4 separate regions of the Homo sapiens genome follow, and all the other regions are linked to region 1. Evidence: fine-mapped expression QTL. A gene starts in region 1. Each other region holds a variant in brackets. All regions are shown on one strand. Distances are between the middles of the regions.

What was found. PIP is the estimated chance that this variant, and not a neighbour inherited with it, causes the effect.
Region 2: its variant is fine-mapped to the expression of RNF212 in aorta (GTEx, PIP above 0.99). The same link has a PIP of 0.9 or more in coronary artery and spleen.
Region 3: its variant is fine-mapped to the expression of RNF212 in tibial nerve (GTEx, PIP above 0.99). The same link has a PIP of 0.9 or more in subcutaneous fat and tibial artery.
Region 4: its variant is fine-mapped to the expression of RNF212 in whole blood (TOPMed, PIP above 0.99).

The regions. Positions count from the first base shown.
Region 1 is chr4:1,111,109-1,116,256 of GRCh38, forward strand. It overlaps RNF212 (ring finger protein 212), which reads right to left and starts at 2,456. Exons shown (of 10, transcript NM_001131034.4): 1 at 2,248-2,456. The coding sequence starts at 2,356. It overlaps LOC124900647 (nascent polypeptide-associated complex subunit alpha, muscle-specific form-like), which reads left to right and starts at 2,531. Exons shown (of 3, transcript XM_047416477.1): 1 at 2,531-2,644. LOC105374344 (a long non-coding RNA gene) reads left to right here and starts at 2,531. Exons shown (of 3, transcript NR_134676.1): 1 at 2,531-2,644. It also overlaps the pseudogene TMED11P.
Region 2 is chr4:1,146,280-1,151,427 of GRCh38, forward strand. The region is part of intron 1 of LOC124900647 (nascent polypeptide-associated complex subunit alpha, muscle-specific form-like); the gene reads left to right. It overlaps LOC124900837 (hornerin-like), which reads left to right. Exons shown (of 2, transcript XM_047416541.1): 2 at 271-5,148. The coding sequence ends at 1,881. Among named protein-coding and RNA genes, the nearest start is that of SPON2, 24 kb to the right of the region's middle. RefSeq lists enhancers at 3,479-3,979, 3,980-4,480. The variant A/T (reference allele first, on the strand shown) is at 2,251.
Region 3 is chr4:1,415,895-1,421,042 of GRCh38, forward strand. No RefSeq gene overlaps it. Among named protein-coding and RNA genes, the nearest start is that of NKX1-1, 12 kb to the left of the region's middle. The variant G/A (reference allele first, on the strand shown) is at 3,067.
Region 4 is chr4:1,062,124-1,067,271 of GRCh38, forward strand. It overlaps a transcript of RNF212 not described here. Among named protein-coding and RNA genes, the nearest start is that of RNF212, 49 kb to the right of the region's middle. The variant T/C (reference allele first, on the strand shown) is at 2,223.

The sequences.
Region 1 (5,148 bases):
GCCCTCCTCACTGGTCCAATGGACACTTTCAAACACCAATTCCTTGACTTCACTGGGATGTCCAGTTCATCAACATCTCTTTTTTACCTGACATCTTCTTTACCTCCTTCAACAAATGCTCTTTCCAACAAGATAGTCTCTTCTAGTTTCCTTCACCTTTGGGGCTCTCCACACTCCAATATCTAGGATTATAGGATTATTATCCCGTATTAATCGCTCCCCAAATGTGTTCCTGGCTGTCTTGAGTTCCAGACCCACATGTGCAACTGCCTCTTGTCTTCCCCTGGATGGCTCTCACAGGATACAGGCCGTGTCCAGACATGAGCTCAGGGGCCCTGCACCCCACCCTGCTGTGCCCCACCCTGCTGGGTTCCCTCCCGCTGGGCTCCTCTCCAGTGTTTTGTCTAGCAGTGAAACCCTGTCCAGTTCTCTAGCCCTTGTCTCCGACTCATGTCTGCTGAATCTACCTAACTTCTCCTGAACCTATCACTTCTCCCCATCACCTCTCATGTGCTCAGCTGCAGTCTCTCCCACAGTTTCTATCTCCCTCCAATCTACTTTTCACCTCGCTGCCCGAGACACTTTTGTTTTTAAATACACACCTGAAATCAACAACTCCACTCCCAGGTTACACACCCAACAGAAATGTGTACCTAAGATCACCGAAGACAGGAGCAAGAAGATTCACAGTAGCATTATTTCTGCAGCCAAATCTGCAAACAACCCAAAGGGCCATGGACAGTGGAAACGATGAGTAACTTGGGGTGTATCCATACAATGGAACACCACACAACAATGAAAGTAGATGAACTACAGTTACATACAAATACAATGATAAACTTTGCTAATCCCACATTTCGGGAGGCCAAGGCCGGTGATTGTTAGAGGACAGGAATTGGAGACCATCCTGGGCAACAAAGGGACCCCATCTCTGTGAAAAATTAAAAAAATCAGGGGTGCGTGGCTGCACATGCCTGTAGCCCCGCTACCCTGGAGGCTGAGGTAGGAGAATCACTTGAGCCTGGGAGGCGGAGGCTGCAGTAAACCGAGATCCCGCCACCGAACTCCAGCCTGGGCGACAAAGCTGAGCTCTGCCTTGAAAGAGGCAAAGAGAAGGAAGGGAGAAAAAGGAAGAAAGATGGGGAGCCACAGAAAGCGGCTTTGCTGTAGGGCTGGTTGTAGGGCTGCATTCACTAAGGCTCCATGGGTCTAAGGCCAACTCCGAGGATGGAGGTCAGCACAGCTGGCGTCCCCTGGGGCTGGAGGGCTGTGAGCCACCGGCACCCAGCTGGCTGCTTTCACGGGGAAGTTCGCTTGGTAAAAGCTCACTGTGTTTTTGCTTTTGTTCTTGCATAAACATCAGTTCAACACAAAATTTTCACAGAAAGAAAAACGCCTCCCTGACAATGCGACTGTCCACTTGACACCAGGGCCCCGCGCTGCCCATGGAATAGGGCCAGAGTCCTCCACTGGCGTTAAGGTTGCCGCCTGCCCGCTTCTCCCCCAGGTCCTCCAGGCGGACCCGCAGCCTGCAAGCCAGAGCCCCCGACTGACAGGACTCGTGGCCCGACCCCTGTGTCCCCCTCATCTTGCATCCCGCTCCCCCCGGCGGCCCCTCCCCTCCACGGCCCCTTCCTGCCTGCGGACCCTCCCCCACGCCCTCCTCCCCTGGCGTCTCCCCTCCCCCCATCTCCTCGGTATCCCCCTTCCCCCCCAAGCCTTGACCCCCCACATCCCCCACCTTGCCCCCCTCCTCTGGCGTCCCCTTCCTCCCTGCAGCCCCCCACCACCTCCGGCGTCCCCTCTTTCCCCACCCTCCCGCAGCCCCTCACTCCCCCGCTCCCTCCCCACCGCTTCTCCAGTGTCCCCCTCTCCCCACGGGCCCCTCATCACGCCCGCGGCCCCCACTCCCCGGTGGCCCCTCCTCCGAATACCCCTACCTCCGCGGCCTCTCACCCCCCCATGCCCCCCCCGCTCCATGCGCCGTTTCTCCCCCTCGGCCCCCCACGCGCCCCCGCGGCCCCTCCACCCCAGGTCCCCCTCCCCTCAGAGTTCCCCTGCTCCTCGCGGCCTCTCCCCTGGCATCCCCCTCCCCCTGCCCCCTCCCCCTTCTCCACGCGCCCTCTCTCCTCCGCAGCCCCCCACGTGCCCCCATGGCCCTCCCACCCAAGTCCCCCATCCCCCGGAGTTCCCTGACCCCCTTGCCGCTCCCCTCCCCTCTCCAGCCTGCGTTCGGGAAGCCCTGACCTTTGCCGAGGCAGGCGTCGCAGTACACGTGCCCGCAGTTGGTGAGGCTGAAGCACGACGTCCTGTGGGGCGGCTGGAAGCAGCGATTACAGAACACCCAGTTGGCCATGCCAGGCGGGCGACCGCAGCGGCGAGGCCGGGCCCACGCGAAGCCCACGCAAGGTTGGGACCAGCCTCCCCGCGCAGGGCCCGAAGGCGGGCAGCTCTGCGCCTGCGCAAAGTCGACGGCAGCCCTGCGCCCGCGCACTGGAGCTCGCGCCCTCCCGCCAACCTCGCGGGTTCTCCCGCAGCACCTGGGAGGGCGCGTGTGACTCGTCTCCCAGGTCGTTTGGGCTGGAGTAGGCGGAGGAACGCACCGCGAGCACCAACGTCCCGCCCCTGTCTTGGCGGTCCTCAGGTGTTTTGTGGAAGCCGGGCCTGGGTGGCGGGCGCGGGGAATGGCGGCTGCGCTGAGGAGGCGTCGCGGCGCGACAGCAGTGGGGGAGGGGGAGGGGGAGCGCCGAGGGCGGGGGATGCGGGCCAGGCCCACCTTGAGGGCCGGGAGCTGGGCCGGAGGCCAGGGCGGCCAGGGTAGTGCGCTGGGCGAGGCAGGGGAGGAGTAGGGGAGAGTGGGCGTGGGGGCCCTGGGGGCCCGGGGAGCGGGATAGGAGGGAGGGAGGGATAAGTGGGTGTGGGAGTTGGGGTGGGAGCGGGAGTGGGGATGTGGGAGTTGGGGTGGGTGTGGGGGCGTGAGGCGGTGGGGGTGGGGTGTGATGAGGCGGTGGGGGTGGGGGGGGCAGTTGGGGGTGGGGGCCAGGCCGCGCTGCACGCTTTGGGACTAGTGTCCAGGTGGCCGCTGGCGCAGAGACCTCAGCACGGGAGGCCTGAGCCTGCTTCCCTCTGAAACGGAAGGCGTAGCTCGGGAAGGACCTCTGCTGCTTCCAGGTTCCAGCATGGGGAAGTGACTTTTTATAAAATTGTCCTCTGCGTGGTTTTGAGAGTTTCCACCCGCTGGGACGCTGCAAAGCTCGGATCGAGAGGCTCAGGCAAGTGCTTGTGCCGGGAGAGCGCAGGGTGAGCGCTCCCGGTAGCTACGGGCCAAGTGACCCCTGCGCCCCGAAAGATGTGAGTAAAATACAGCTGTTTCCAGGGCCTCGTATGAAAACCTTCTTAGTAATTTTATATTGATTACATGTTAACATGATATTTTTGATATATTAGGTTAAATATATATCAGTAGCGTTGATTTTACCCTTTCAAAAAATCCTTTTCAATGTGGAGACTAGAAAACTTAGAATTACGTATGGGCTGGGTGCGGTAGCTCACGCCTGTAATCCCAGCTACTCCGGAGGCTGAGGCAGGAGAATCGCTTGAACGAGGCGGAGGTTGCAGTGAGCCGAAATCACACCACTGCACTCCAGCCTGGGCAACAGAGTGAGACTTCGTCTCAACAACAACAACAGCAAATTAGAATTATGTATGTAGCCCACTTTTATTTCTGTTAGACAGTGCTGATCTCTACCAAGTTTAAAATAGCAAGACCAGCAACGTGGCAAAACCCCGTCTCTACAAAAAATACAAAAATTAGCTGGGTGTGGTGGTGGGCCCCTGGGGTCCCAGCTACTCGGGAGGCTGAGGTGGGAGGATTGCTTGGGCCCTGGAGATCGAGCCTGTGGTGAGCCTGACGGCACCTGTGCAGCAGAGCGAGACTCAGTCTCAAAAATAAGTTTAAGAATAGGATGAGGTGCCTAATCTATCAAATTCAGAAGCTGCATTATAAAAGCATTCTCTCAATGTTATAATGATATAACGTTAATCTCAATCTCTGGTATCTTTGAAATCATAAAAATAATACACATATATGCAGGTATTTTGATTTATTAACTCAAACATTATGCAGATTATTTGTCCTTATTGATAATATTTTAAACAATCTTCTTAGCTATAAAGAAGTCTTTCAGGTACTTCATTTGGAAAATTCCGACTGAGATAAAGATTAATATTTGTGCAAAAGCCCACCATAAAACATTGCTATTTGTATCTTCACTGGTCGTTCGAAAATTTTCTTCACGGTCCTATGCGGAAAAGAAGTAGGTTTAGTGTCATAAAGTACTTAACTCACGATTTTGAGGGGAGGGTTGTTGTGGGCATTCAAGGTATTTAATATTACCCAATTAATATCTTACACCAACGTATCCGTGCAGTCTGCTTTTCTAAACCAGAATCTGTTGCTTAGCCAAGTATAAGAGAGTAAAAATCAACCTTATAAAAGATGGTTTTGTATTTTGGTGTAAAATATCAGGAATTTGACCTATTCGTATATTTTATTTGCTACCATCAGGCAAAGCGAATATTACCCAATAGTGGTAGATTTCATCATTTGAGTCCAGCCTTTATGCCAGGCATTAGGCCAAGCACTTGCATGCCTTATTTGCTTGTCACACCTGTCCTTATCTTCCTGTTAAGGAAACTGAAGCTTAGAGATGACACAGATTACTGACAGGTAGTTGAGATTTAAGCCCATATCTGACCAATATCCACTTAGTGTAGTGACTCAAAAAGCACCTAATGTCATAAGAATAAAATTGTGATTTGGAAAGTGAGCATACGTGAGCCTCTACAAATACATGGGATGCATTTGGAAGCATTTATTCATTCTGCAAGCTCACACCCTGTGCTACTGGGGACTTCGTTAGGCACAGGGCATAAAAAGATGAATGAACTGAAATTCTGTTTCCTAGAGGAGTTCATAGTCCAGCCGACAGAGTGAAGAAAAATTGCTCTCTCTAGTCCCTGTGAATCCACACCGTTCTACCTCAGAGAGAAAGTGAGGAACAGGCAGTTCACTCTTTCCTTGGTCCAGGGGCTTTGTGTTGAGAAATGCGTTGCTGGTAGCAAGAGATAAAATAAGTTGAATAGGCA
Region 2 (5,148 bases), 35 kb after region 1:
GAGGAGAGCTTAGAATGCCGTGGATATCATGGAAATGGCACTGACAGGGAGAGCTTAGAACGCCGTGCATATCATGGAAATGGCACCGATGGGGAGAGTTTAGAACACCGTGGATATCATGGAAATGGTACCGATGGGGAGAGTTTAGAACGCCGTGGATATCATGGAAATGGCACTGACGGAGAGTTTAAAACGCCGTGGATATCATGGAAATGGCACCGATGGGGAGAGCTTAGAACGCTGTGGATATCATGGAAGTGACACTGACAGAGCTTAGAACACCGTGGATATCATGGAAGTGGCACCGACGGGGAGAGCTTAGAATGCCGTGGATATCATGGAAATGGCACTGACAGGGAGAGCTTAGAACGCCGTGCATATCATGGAAATGGCACCGATGGGGAGAGTTTAGAACACCATGGATATCATGGAAATGGTACCGATGGGGAGAGTTTAGAACGCCATGGATATCATGGAAATGGCACCGACGGGGAGAGCTTAGGACACTGTGGATATCATGGAAATGGCACCGACAGCGAGAGTTTAGAATGCTGTGGATATCATGGAAATGGCACCGATGGGGAGAGCTTAGGACGCCGTGGATATCATGGAAATGGCACCGACGGGGAGAGCTTAGAATGCCATGGATATCATGGAAATGGCACCGATGGGGAGAGTTTAGAACGCCGTGGATATTATGGAAATGGCACCGATGGGGAGAGTTTAGAACGCCGTGGATATCATGGAAATGTCACCGACGGGGAGAGCTTAGAACGCCATGGATATCATGGAAATGGCACCGACGGGGAGAGTTTAGAACGCCGTGGATATCATGGAAATGGCACCGACAGGGAGAGTTTAGAACGCCGTGGATATCATGGAAATGGCACCCACAGCGAGAGTTTAGAACACCATGGATATCATGGAAATGGCACTGACAGGGAGAGTTTAGAACGCCATGGATATCATGGAAATGGCACCGACAGGGAGAGCTTAGAACGTCGTGGATATCATGGAAATGGCACCAACAGGGAGAGTTTAGAACACCGTGGATATCATGGAAATGGCACCCACAGCGAGAGTTTAGAACACCGTGGATATCATGGAAATGGCACCCACAGCGAGAGTTTAGAACACCATGGATATCATGGAAATGGCACCGACAGGGAGAGCTTAGAACGTCGTGGATATCATGGAAATGGCACCAACAGGGAGAGTTTAGAACACCGTGGATATCATGGAAATGGCACCCACAGCGAGAGTTTAGAACACCGTGGATATCATGGAAATGGCACTGACAGCGAGAGTTTAGAACACCGTGGATATCATGGAAATGGCACTGACAGCGAGAGTTTAGAACACCGTGGATATCATGGAAATGGCACCAACAGGGAGAGTTTAGAACACTGTGGATATCATGGAAATGGCACCCACAGCGAGAGTTTAGAACACCGTGGATATCATGGAAATGGCACTGACAGCGAGAGTTTAGAACACCGTGGATATCATGGAAATGGCACTGACAGCGAGAGTTTAGAACGCTGTGGATATCATGGAAATGGCACCCACAGCGAGAGTTTAGAACACCGTGGATATCATGGAAATGGCACCGACGGGGAGAGTTTAGAACGCCGTGGATATCATGGAAATGGCACCAATGGGGAGAGTTTAGAACACCATGGATATCGTGGAAATGGCACTGATGGGGAGAGTTTAGAACACCGTGGATATCATGGAAATGGCACCCACAGCGAGAGTTTAGAACACCATGGATATCATGGAAATGGCACTGACAGGGAGAGTTTAGAACACCGTGGATATCATGGAAATGGATTTCAGAAAGGCTTTTGTATGTTAGTTTTCAGCCAAGTCAAGAAGTGAGATGCATCCACATCTGGCTGCATGCTTGTAATTAGAATCTGACTTTCAAATTCGTCTCAATGTGTGTGGAAGTCTTAGAACCACAGTTCATCCTGCAGTTTGTTCAGTTCTGATTAAAAGCACTCACTCCACATGTGCCAGGCACTGCAATAGGCTTTGGGGATACAAAGGTTAATAGAAGAGTTCATGCCCTCAAAGAGCTCATTCAGTCCTAATACACCTTCAAACCGGAAGTGTCCCTGCTGACACAGAGCAAAATGACCACTTTTATGAGCGACATGAAACTGGGAAGGGGACCCAGATATCCTCCTGTCCCCATCCCCGTCCCCCAGCACAGGGCCTGTGTCCCAGCAGCCTGCTGGTAGACCA[A/T]AGCAGCCAAGGTAAAAGGCCAATCCCGGCTCTCCCCCCAGCCAGCTTCGCACCACTCAATCTGTGGGAAATTGAGGGCATCATATTTGGACCATGACTTACTTGTGGTTGTTTGTTTAATTGGTTTTGATGAGTTTGGTTTGCTTTTCTCTCCTTGTACGATTTGCCCATTTTCTGTCCTCGGTTTTTCCATGTCTGAGTAATAGTCTTCTTTTGTCTTATGCCCATCCCCCGTTTTTGCCAGAGCCTTCCACCCTCCTGCCTCAGTCTCCACAGCCTGCTCCCTCGGCCTCCTCTGGGCTGGCTGTCCTGGGTCAGCGGTGAGTTCTTCTTTCTTGGGTTACATGCTTTGCGGCTTCTTTGCTGAATGCAGTCAGGGGCAGGGGCAGGGGCAGGCCCAGGGAGCTCGCCTGTCTTGCCCTACAGAGTCTTCAGCTCCCAGCTCTTAGCTTGACCCAAACGAGATACTTTCACGCATGTGTGTTACAAACTGGAGCAAAACCGCGCACTTGGCAACTAAGGAGAGTTAGCCTGCAAAGAGAAATCTGGGATGGGTGGAATCTGTGACTTCAGTTATGACGGACTTTCAGGTGAAAAAATGTGTATTTATTTTGAGTGGACCCAGATGGCAGAACAAGGATGATTGGATACAGTTGTGGAGATGTAGTTCCTGCACTATGGACAGCTGTGGGCTGTGCTCCCCGGCAAGGAAAAGGCGAGCAGCCACCCCAGAGCGCCAGTGCAGAGGCTCCCTTGGCACTAGGGTGTGGGGCAGGTGTGGGCTCCTCCACCACAGGGCAGTGGGTGAGGAGCACCAGACCCACAGGATGGCTTCCAGGACCAGTCTGTAGCTCTTGGACTTTAAGGGCATACTGTTCTCTTTTAAAGAAAAGTTAAAACTGTGGCCTGATGCGCCTTTTTTTTTTTTTTTTTTTTTTGAGATGGAGTCTCATTCTGTCACCCAGGCTGGAGTGCAGTGACGCGATCTCGGCTCACTACAACCTCTGCCTCCTGGGTTCAAGTGATTCTTCTGCTTCAGCCTCCCAAGTAGCCAGGACTGCAGGTGTCCACCACTACTCCTGGCTAATTTTTTTTCTTCTTTGTATTTTTAGTAGAGACGGGGTTTTACCATGTTGGCCAGGCTGGTCTTGAACCCCTGACCTCAAGTGATCACATGCCTCGGCCTCCCAAAGTGCTGGGATTACAGGTGTGAACCACCATGCCTGGCCCTGATGCACTTTCAAAGTTTTCCATAACAGTGAGTTTTAAGTAGCCAAGCTCTAAATCTAAATAATTGCCCAAGGGTGATGGTTAAGGAGACTGCTGAGTGGGAAGAACAGAGAGTAGGGAGGCTTGGGAAGACCAGGTGAGGAGGAGCAGTCAGTCAGAGAAGAGCCTTGGCAGGAACTGAGGAGGGAGGCGTGGACAGCAGCATCCGTGGGAAGGAGGACTCCAGAGGCTCCTGACTTGGGTGAGGGAGCCAGCCACAGTGGGCCCTGGTCTTCCAGCCAGATGGGACCGCTTGCCAGAGGATCCTTGGGGTGTCACATTTCTAGCTGGAAACTTCTGTGGCTGGTGGCACCCTTGCCCGAGTTTTGCTTGGGCCCACTGGGCTTGTTCTGCCCACTCAGCCTGGCATGCTGCACTCAACTCACGCTACTGGCCTGGATCCCACACCTGCCAAGAGCGAGTCAGGCACAGAGCAGTGAGGGGTGTGTGAGTGAGCATGGGGTCCAGCCACTGTGCAGTCAGGCACACCCGCAGCTGCTGCAAGGTGGGCAGCTCCAGTGCTGGCATGGGCGCCCACTCTCTGCAAGGCTGCAGCTGGACCAGGTGCACTGCAAGCAGCTTCCACAGCTGGCACTGGGGAATGCAGTATGCCAGGAACCACAGGGCCCCAAAGAGGGAGTCCAACTCAGAAGGGGCAGGGCTCCTGCTTGTTCCTGGCCTGGGGGGCTCCCAAGTCTAGGCTCCCTGAAGGGCTGCAGCTCTTCTCTCCTTCTCTTCCCCCATAGCATGGCAAGCAAGGGGCATGTCTCAGCCCTGTTTGTGTTATACCAGCTCTTTTAGCCTTGCCATTTGACGGGTCCCAAGTTCTTGTCCTGTGACCAGGAAGAATGAGGTCTGCAGACAAGTGGAGGGTGAGCAAGAGGAAGACGAGCTTTATTGAGCGATACAACGGCTCAGAGGAGACCCGCAGGGGCAGCTCCTTTCCACAGCCAGGGTGTCACAACGCGTGTTCAGCTCCTAGCACAGAGGAGACCGTAGAGTGGGAAGCTCCTCTTGGCAGGCAGGCCATCCTGTCATCTCTGAGGCTCTCAGCAGAGAGGAGGCCCTGGAGTGGGTTGCTCCTGTCTGCAGACGGGCCATCCCTTTGTGCCTGCGGCTCTCAGCAGAGAGGAGGCCCTGGAGTGGGCTGTTGCTCTCTGCAGGCAGGTCCTCTTGTTGTCTCCCCAGCTCTCAGCAGAGAGGAGGCCATGGAATGGGTAGCTCCTCTCTGCATCTGGTTGCCCTGATGTCTGCTCAGCTCTGGTTGAGCCTAGGGCTTTTATGGGCCTTAGAGGGGAGGAAGTGCACTGTGATTGGTACATTGGCAGTCATGGGTAAAGGCACCAGAAGTTCCCACTCTGGTCTGCAGGACTGGCAGCCCAGTCCCCAGCCTTCAGGACCTCCCTGGCCTGAAGGTGGGGGCCTCACCAGGGACCTGCCCTCTTCCACCCAGGAACTTGTCTGCGTCCTGCTGCTATTCATGGTGTCCAGGCTATAGGTGCCAAGGGGTGCCTGCAGGCCAGTGCCAAGCTACCCTCAGCCCACCCTTGGCTTCCCTCCTATTCTCGGTGCTTAAAGTCTGGAGGGTGCTGAGGCAGCAGGGGGCTGGTGTATTAGCACTGCCCTGAG
Region 3 (5,148 bases), 300 kb after region 1:
GGGCTATAATTAATTAATTATACGGGTCAGATAATATCTAGGGCTGGAATGAGGTCTGAAGGACCCATTACGGTGGTAATGAGAAAGGGGAAATCTAATCTGGGGACAGGTGCTGCGAAGGCCTGGGATACTGCTGCCCGCCTCGCTGGCCTCGTCCCCACCAGCAGGCCCAGCATGGCCCAGCTTCCTCGGACGCAGCCAGTGGGCACGTCAGGCAGGGTTGCTTGAGGTGGGGCCCTCAGCGGGCCAGGAGGACTGAGAGGCTGGGGTGGAGGGTGGGACTGAGAGGCTGGGGCGGAGGGCGGAACTGAGAGACTGGGGTGGAGGGCCCGCCCGCCTGTGTTGCTGGCCTGCAGCTGCAGACTTGGCCGGGGGGCGGGGGGGCAGGTGCCCACGTTCTTGGCTCTCTTTTGGGGCCTGGAGGGCCCCTGTCCCCCTCCGGCTTTCCTGTCTTTCTCTGAAGTGAGGGCCTGGCTGGACCATTCCCTGCATGTGTGGAGTCCAGTCCTCACCTCGAGCTCCTCCACCACCACCCCACACTCAGAGACTGAAACCCATGCCGGTAGCCAGAGTCCATGGGGCCGGCCGGGACTGCCCTGCCCACCCTTCCTCTCCTTTTCCTGGCTCCCACGACCCCACCGCACGGCCTCCCTGCTGCCTGAGGGGTGAGCGGGCCAGCTGCCTTCGCACTGGCTGTCCCCTTGTTCTGAAGTCACCTCCTCTTCATCTTCTCTTTGACATGAATTTCTCTGCTCTGACATTAGCTCTTCAGAGAGGCTGGATCCTGGCTGCCCTGGTCAACCCCCTATGCCCGCCAAGACTGCCCCCCAGTGCAGGATGTATTGACTTGCTGGTGGAATGGAGGACCCACACTGGCTCCGCAGTCCCGGGTCGTGTGCCTTTCAGGAGTGCTGCTGTCCCATGCCCAAAATCAGGACACACATGGTGGTCTGGGGTGAAATCTGAAGACATCACACATCACAGACACTGCAGCTTGGCGGCTGCTTTCCCCCTCGTCCTCAGTGCTGCAGGCAGCCTGGTGCCTGCAAGTGGCTCTGGTGAATGCAGCCCTTCCCTTGCTGGGCTTCCTAGTGGGGGCCTGGAGGTGCGGCCCAGTGAGTCTGCCCTGCCCAGTAGCTGTGGGCCTCAGACGCACCTGTCTTCTGGCAGCCTGAGGTTCTTTGGAACCTCCTGGCGGGGATCCAGGGGGCTTCAGCGGGGCTGGCTCGCTGTTTGAAACTCCACACCACCCCTTCCCTGTCAGGCCAGGCCGATCCCCTGCCCAGATGGCCCAGGTCCTCCTCACTGTCTCTGGGCATGGTGGCCGGGCAGTGGGCACCCTGTCTGTAGGGAATTTAAAACAATAGTGAGGCCAGGCACTGTGGCTCATGACTGTAATCCCAGCACTTTAGGAGACTGAGGTGGGCAGATCACCTGAGGTCGGGAGTTCGAAACCAGCCTGACCAACATGGAGAAACCCCAACTCTACTAAAATTACAAAATTATCGAGGCATGGTGGTGGTTGCCTGTAATCTCAGCTACTTGGGAGGCTGAGACAGGATAATCACTTGAACCCGGGAGGCGGAGGTTGCGGTGAGCCAAGATCACACCACTGCACTCCACTCCAGCCTGGGCAAGAGCAAAACTCCATATAAAAAAAAAAAAAAAAAAGTGAAAGCAACAAACGGGCTGCCTGCTTCCTCCCACCACAAGAGACGTGCTTCTGAACAATGTCCGTGACCAACACTCCTGCCCAGGAATGTGTTTTGACGGTCAAAGCTTGCAGTGGCGGCTGTGGGTACTGCCGGGTGTGTGCATGTGGACAGGTAGCATATGAGCATGTAAATGTCCTTTGCTAAGTGTGTGCCCTACACGGAAGCGAGTCTATAGAATCCCGGTTCACAGTTGCTTGTGGCCTGCCGATGCGGCCACACGCGTCCATTTTGAGAGGAGGCCTGTGGTTTGGGAGCGCGGTTCAATTTCAAGCTCAGCTCCTGTCCCCACCCCACCCCAGGTCCCACTCGTTCCTTTGTGTAAACAGTAGGTTCAAAATAAACAGATGGCACAGTGGCCGCAGAGACCAAGCTGCAGAACTTGGTGCCTCCCACCCTGTTCTTCCAGGCGCAGGCTGCCCGCACGCCTCGCGGCACTTACTCCCTCGGACATGTTTCTTCAAGCGCCTTTTTCTGCTAAAAATACATCCATGCCGAGAGCAGTTTGGCGTCCTGGACTGGACCCTGGATGACAGAAGGGACATTCGTGGGGGAAAAAGTCGGTGAAATCCCAGAGGGTGTGTAGTTTGCTTCATAGTGTGTGGCGATGCCGCTCTCCTAGTTTTGACAAATGTCCGGGGGTGACTTAAGAGGTGAATGTGGGCTGCCGTGGGGTGTAGGTGGGTGCTCTCTCATGCTCCTCGCAGCTTTGCTGTTAATCTAAAATGATTCCAAAAAGGAAATATTTATGACATTCATGTCATTAAAAAGCATCAACCCATTCCCTTTTTCCGATTTTGCATTATAATACGTAGTTAATTTTTTTACTAATAATATATAAATTCAATAAAACTTTCACCATTGGCATGCACTTTCTGTTGCTTGTTTCATTACATGGCAATTTCTGCCATAATTTTTTTTTCTTTTTAGAGGTAGGCTCACTCTGTCACCCAGGCTGGAGTGCAGGAGAGAGATCTTGGCTCACTGCAGCCTCGACCTTCCAGGCTCAAGGCATCCTCCTGCCTCAGCTTCCCAAAGTGCTGGGCCAATGATAACTTTTGTTTGCTTTTTGAGACAGGGTCTCACTCTGTCGCCCAGGCTGGAGTGCGGTGGCGCAGTCACGGCTCACTGCAGCCTGGAACTCACAGGCTCAAATGATCCTCCCACTTCAGCCTCCTCACTAACTGGAACTACAGAAGCCTCCACCTCACCCAGCAAATTACTGAACTTAATTTTTTTGATGTGCCCTGGGGTCAATACTCGAGATAGGTCCTGGTGGCTGCCTCACCAAAGGATGCCCCATTACGTCAGTCCTCCCAGCCCCTATCCAAGTGCCCATTTGTCATCACACTGA[G/A]GAGGCTGTGGGGTGAGGCTCCATGTCTCCTCCTCCACCTCCCCAACACGGCAGATGTGGGAGGCAGCTTAGGGCTGGGGATGAATAAGGGAATGTGAACACAGACACCACCCAGGACCACACCCCGTGATCCCAGCGAGGGGGGCTGGTCGTGACGGTATCTCTTTCCAGCTGTGACGAGGATGCCACCTGGGCTTCCTGCTGACCTGGCCGAACCCTGCCAGGTGTCTGTGAGGACATCCTGCCCTCACAGTGATTGTAGACAACCGTTGCCTTTTCTAGTGATCAAAGTAACACGTGCTCGTGAAAAAGCACAGAGGAGAAGCAGCATCTCCCATAACCCACAGCACAGCGACGGCCCAGCTCACACCTTGCCGTTTTCTGCTTTCCTCTCATCTCGTTTTCTGCTTCCTAAAAACATAAATGTTGGCCGGGTGCTGTGGCTTACGCCTGTAATCCCAGCACTTTGGGAGGCCGAGGCGGGCAGATCACTTGAGATCAGGAGTTCGAGACTAGCCTGACCAATATGGTGAAACCCCATCTCTACTAAAAAAAAAAAAATACAAAATTAGCCGGGTGTGGTGGCGAGTACCTGTAGTCCCAGGTACTCGGGAGGCTGAGGCAGGAGAATTGCTTGAACCCAGAAGGTGGAGGTTGCAGTGAGCCGAGATCTTGCCACTGCACTCCAGCCTGGGTGACAGAGCGAGACTCTGTCTCAAAAAAAAAAAAAAAAACCATAAATGTGGGCGCTGCACCTATAGCCTTGGGCACTTGGATGCTGGCCCCCCCTTGTATCCTAGGCATTTCTCGTTGTCATAGCAGACTTCGTAACACAGGTTCTTACCGGTCCCATAGAACCCTGTCACACGGAGGGCGTGAGCCGTCCATCCGTGTGCCTAGGCAGTCTGGCTTTCTGTGCCTGGAACCACTGCTGTGTAGATTCTTGTTTAGACTTGAGTTCACCTCTAGGAGACACCAGAAGTGATGGGTTGGGTTAAAGGGAGGGAATTCCTAAAGGCTGGGTAACGTCTCCGGCGTCACTGGCATGGGCACCATCTCACAGGGTGGCATCCCCGCCTCCTTCTGTGGCGGTTGCCATTTCTGTGGACACTGGTGAGAAGGAACATTTTCCCTCATGAATATTAGCCACGTAGCTTCTTTTTTTTTGTGAACTTTGTCTTCTTTGTGAGCTCTGTCTTTTTTCCATTTGGTCAGCTATTGAGGTTGTTTTGTGGGTGGCAATAGGTTAAAAAGTAACCTTGGGTTGGGCATGGTGGCTCATGCCTGTAATTTGGGAGGCCGAGGCAGGCGGAGCACCTGAGGTTGGGAGTTCGAGGCCAGCCTGGCCAACCTGGCGAAACCCCGTCTCTACTAAAAATACAAAATTAGCCGGGCGTGGTGGCAGGTGCCTGTAATCCCAGCTACTCGGGAGTCTGAGGCAGGAGAATTGCTTGAGCCTGGGAGGCAGAGGTTGCAGTGAGCTGAGATCGCGCCACTGCACTCCAGCCTGGGCGACAGAGGGAGACTCCATCTCAAAAAAAAAAAAAAAAGTACCCTCTACTATAACATATTTCAAACACACACAAAAATACAGCGCAGAGTAAGATCAGCTTCCTGGGACCTGTCACTCAGATGCAACATCTGTCAACATTTTGGTGTCAATATGGTTTTGTGTATCCAAAGCCACACCTTTATTCTGGAATCTTAAAATATACCTTCAGACATTAAGTTGCTTCACCTGTAAATATTTCAGGCAAGAAAAAGAAATAAAATGTAAACATATTGAAACAGAAAAAATAAAACTAGCCCTGCATACAGACGACATGATTATCTACGTAGAAAATCCCAAGGAAAAAGCACCCAGAATTCATAAGTCAGCAAGGTCAGAGAAAAAGCCTGAAAAAGGTCAATCTAATTTCTATATACCCACGATCAGTGATTAAATCCTAAAAATTCAAAAACATTTTATAATAGCTCCAGGTTAAGGAAGTTCCTTCCTATTCTTAATTTTCTGAGAAATTTGTAAAATCATTAACAGATGTTGCATTTTATCACATTTTTTTTCCGTATCCATAGGCTCAT
Region 4 (5,148 bases), 49 kb before region 1:
ATTCTATGAGGACAGAATGAGGTCCTGACACCAAAAGCAGACAGAAACGTTACAAGGAAAGAAGTGTGCTGACCAGTATCTCTTATGAATACAGACACACAATTCCTCAACAAAATACCAGCAAACAAAATCCAGCAGCGTATAAGAAAGATCATACACCACGACCAACCGGGATTCATCTCAGGAATGCACAGTTCCTTCAACATACAGAAATCAACACCATATTAATATATTCTATCAATGGAAGTAATTACATCTATGAACACATCATGGTAACAGAACAAAACCCAATAATCATCTCAAAAGAGAAAGAGAAAGCACTTGAAAAATTTAACCCTTCTTCATGACAAAAAAGGACTAGAAGGGCACTTCTCAACCCTATAAAGGGCGCCTCCAGGAAACCCTCAGTGAACACCATCCTTCATGGTGAAAGGCTGAAAGTTTCCTCCTAAGATCAGGAACAGAACAAAGACAAGGATGTCTGTTCTTGCCGCTTGTATTCAACACTGTATTGAAAGTTCCAGAGAGGGCGGTTAGGCGAGAAAAACAAATGAAAGTCCTGCAGTGGGACGGGAAGTGAAAAGATAAAAATAAAAGTAAAAGATAAATAAAAGGCATCGTGGTTGGAAAGGAAAAAGTAAAACAACCTCCACTTGCCGATGACATGATTTGCCATATACAGAAAACCCTAGAGAATCCACAAAAAAAATCCCCAGAGCTCATAAACTCAGTAGATTGCAGGATACAAGATCCATCTATAAAAATCAGTTGTATTTCTACATACTAGCAATGAAAACCTGAAAATAAAAGTTACAAAACAATTCTATTTATAGTAGCACCAAAATAACAAAATACTTAGGAATAAATTTTACCAATGAAGTGCAAGATTTCTTCACTGAAAACTGCAAAATACCGTTGAAAGAAATCAAAGACCTAAATAAAGGTAAAGCTATGTCCAACATTCATGGATTGGAAGATGCAGTGTTAGTATTAGATGGCAATACCCCCTACATTGATGTACAAGGTGAATTAAAACTCTACCGAGATTTCAACCTGCTTTGTCAGCAGAAATGGGAAAGTTGATCCTAAAATTCATATGGAAATGCAAGGAACTCAAAATATGCAAAACAATCTCAAAAAAGAACAAAGTTGGAAAACTCACACTTCATAATTTCAAAAGTTACTATAAAGCTTTAGTAAGTGAAAGACAAAAAGAAAAATACTTAAAGCAGCAAGAGAAGAGCAACTCATCACCTACAGGACAATACGATTAACAGCTGACTTCTCATCAGAAATAATGGAAATGGCTGGGTACGGTGGCTCATGCCTGTAATCCCAGCACTTTGGGAGGCCGAGGTGGGCAGATCACCTGAGGTCAGGAGTTTGAGACCAGCCTGGCCAACATGGTGAAACCCCATCTCTACAAAACTAGCCAGGTGTGGTGGTGCGCACCTGTAATCCCAGCTCGTCAGGAGGCTGAGGCAGGAGAATCACTTGAACCCAGAGGTGGAGGTTGCAGTGAGATCACACCATTGCACTCCAGCTTGGGCAACAGAGTGAGACTCAGTCTCAAAAAAAAAAAAAAAAAGAAAAAAGAAAAATTAGCCAGGTGTGGTGGTGCATGCCTACAGTCCCAGATACTCAGGAGGCTGAGGTGGGAGGATTGATTGAGCCCAGGAGGTCCAGGCTGCAGTGAGCCATGGTCAAGACACTGCACTCCAGCCTGGGTGGCAGAGACCCAGTCTCAAAAAAAAAAAAATGAAAAAAACCAATATTAATAATAATGGAAGCCAGAAGACAGAGGAATGACATATATACCAAGTGCTAAAAAGTCAACCAAGAAAATGTATCTTCAGTGAAATTATCCTTCAAAATGAAGACAAAGACATTCAAATATGGAAAAAAAAAATGAAGAGAACTGACTTCTAGCCAATCTTCCCTGCAAGAAAAAACTGGAAATGGTTAATATGTTGTGAATGATGGAATAAAAGATTTTTTTCCTCTTAAGGTCTTTAAGAAACATAAGTTTAATTCAGGAAATAATGACAACACCATATTGTTAGATTTATAACACATAGATCCCATATATATGTACATAAATACATATGACAAAGCAGGTGGGAGGAAGCGGAGCTATATGGAGCAATGTGGTTACGTTCCACTGGAATTCAGTCGGTGTTCACCTCAGTGAGTGTTCACTGTGGTGAGTTCAAGATGCATGT[T/C]GTAATCTCTAGAGGAATCACTGAAATAATAAAGCACACAGATAAAGTATCAACAGGAGAACTAAAACGTGTATTAGTCTGCTTGGGCTTCTGTAATAAAATACCACAGACTGGGTGGCTTACACAACAGAAGTTTATTTCTCGCAGTTCTGGAGACTGGCAAGTCCATCAAGATGCTGGCTGATGGGGGTCCTGGCTTGCAGACAGCAGCCTTCTCACTCTGTCTTCATACGGCCTCTTTTGTGTGTGTGCAGAGTTAGTAAGCAAGCTCCCTGGTGTCTCTTTTGTTTTTTGAAAATTTATGATGATACAGTTTCCTACCTTAACCATTTTCAGTGTACAGTTCACTGGTATTAAATACATTCCTGATGCTGTGCAACCATCACACCACCCATCTCTATAACTGTTTTCATTTTGTGAAACTGAAATTTTGTGAAACTCCCATTAAACGAGAGCTTCCCACCCCTCCATCCCACAGCCGCTGGCAGCCACCATCCTACTTTCCGTCTCTACGATCTTGACTACTTCACACACATGGACTCACACAGCATTTGTGTTTCTGCGACTGGCTTATGCACTTAGCATAGCGTCCTCAATGTTCATCCACGCGGTAGCGTGTGCCAGAGTTTCCTTCCATTTTAAGGCTGAATCATAGCCCACTGTACGGAGACACACATTGTGCCTATCCATTCATCTGATGGATACTTAGATGGCTCCCATGTTTTAGACACTGTGAATAATACTGCTACGATCTTGGGTATACAAGCATCTCTTAGAGACCCTGCTTTCAATCCTTTTGAGTACTGAATTGAAATGCAGCATCATCTGGGAATTGTGTTTTTAAGTTTTGGAGGAAAGGCCACACTGTTTTCCACAGCAGCCACACCATTTCACATTCTCACCAACAGTGCACATGCTTCCAATTCCTCCGCGTCCTTAACAACACTTGTTATTTTGGGTTTTTAAAAATGATTACAATAAACATTTATTTAAAGGAAAACATCTGCAGACCAAATAATTCTGAAGTTTGTTTCAGGTTTAACCATCTTCATAAAAATACTTTGAGGAAAGCTGCATCCACAGACTTCAACTATGTGATTACTTCTTTGTCCATTCTCCTCTCTCGTTTTCTTTTTTCTTGAGACAGGGTCTCACTCTGTCAACCAGTCTGGGGTGCAGTGGTATGATCACTGCTCACTGCAGCCTTGACCTCCCAGGTTCAGGCAATTCTCCCACCTCAGCATCCTGAGAAGCTGGGACCACAGGTTTACGCCACCAGCCTGGATAATTTTTTGTAGAGAGGGGGTTTTGCCCAGGCTGGTCTGGAACTCCTAGGCTCAGCTCCACCTCGGCCTCTCAGCTTCCCAAGTAGCTGGGACTACAGGTGTGTGCCACCACACCTGGCTAGTTTTGGCATTTTTAGTAGAAACAGGTTTCATCATGTTGGCCAGGCTGGTCTTGAAGTCCTGACCTCAAGTGATCTGTCCACTTCAGCCTCCCAAAGTGCTGGGATTACAGACATCCGTGCCCGGCCTGTTTTTGTTTTTAAGAGACAGGATCTTACTCTGTCGTCCAGGCTGGAGTGCAGTGATGCAATCATAGTTCACTGCAGCCTTGACCTCCTGAGCTCAAGCAATCCTGCCTCTGTGTTCCAAGTAGCTAGGACTACAGGTGCGATTTTTTAAATATATAGTAGCCATCCTAATGGCTGTTTATCTCATCCTAATGAGATACTATCTTGCTGTTTTTTTTTTTTCTCTGTAGATGAGGTCTTGCTATGTTGCCCAGGCTGGACTCCATCTCCTTGGCTCGAGCAATCCTCCCACCTCAGCCTCCTGAACAGCTGGGACTACATGCATGAGCCACTATACCCAGCTCTTGCTATAGTTTTGATTTGCATTTCTCTAACGATGAACGATGAGTATCTTTTCATGTGCTTATTGATCATTTGTGTACTTTGCCTATTCAAGTCATTTGCTGCCCTCCGCTTTTCTTTTTTCTGAGACAGGGTCTCACACTGTCACCCAGGCTGGAGTGCAGTGGCACAATCTCGACTTACTGCAACCTTTGCCCCCCAGGCTCAAGCAATTCGCCCACTTCAGCTTCCTGAGCAGCCGGGACTACAGGTGTGTGCCCCCATGCCTAACTACTTTTTAAGTTTTTTTGTAGAGATGGGGGTTTCACCATGTTGCCCAGGCTGGTCTCGAACTCCTGAGCTCAAGCGATCCTTTTGCCTTGGTCTCCCAAAGTGATGGGATGACAAGTGTGCACCACTGCGCCCAGGCTTTGCCCATTTTTGAATCAGGTTGTTCGTTGTTAAGTTTTAGTTCTTTATGTATTCTGGATTGTAATCCCTTATTAGATACATATGATTTGCAAATATTTTCTCTGATTCTGCAAGTTGCCTTTTTACTCTATTGATAGTATCTTTTGATGTGGAAAAATTTAAAATTTTCATGAGGTCAATTTGTTTAATTTTTTTTTTTGTTGCCTGTGCTTTGGTATCATATCCAGGAAATCACTGCCACATCCAACATTGTGAACCTTTTGCTCTATGTTTTCTTAAAAGAGTTTTATATTTTTTAGTTTTAGGTCCTTGATCCATTTTGAATTGACTTTTCTACATAGTGTTAGGAAGGAGTCCAACTTCATTATTCTGCAGGTGGATATCCAGTTTTCCCAACACCATTTCTCAAAAAAACTGTCCTTTCCCCCACTGAATAGTGTCTTTCTCCATTGAATAGTGTGTTTTGTTTTGAGGACATGAATCTTATTGGCTTAGGGCTAATTTAACTTTACCTCCTAAAGGTTCTAACTCAAAATATAGTCACATTGGAGGTTAGGGCTTCAACATATGAATTTTGGGGGGACTCAAATCAGTCTATAGCAAAATGGTATGATAAAAATATTTATTGCAAACAAAGGC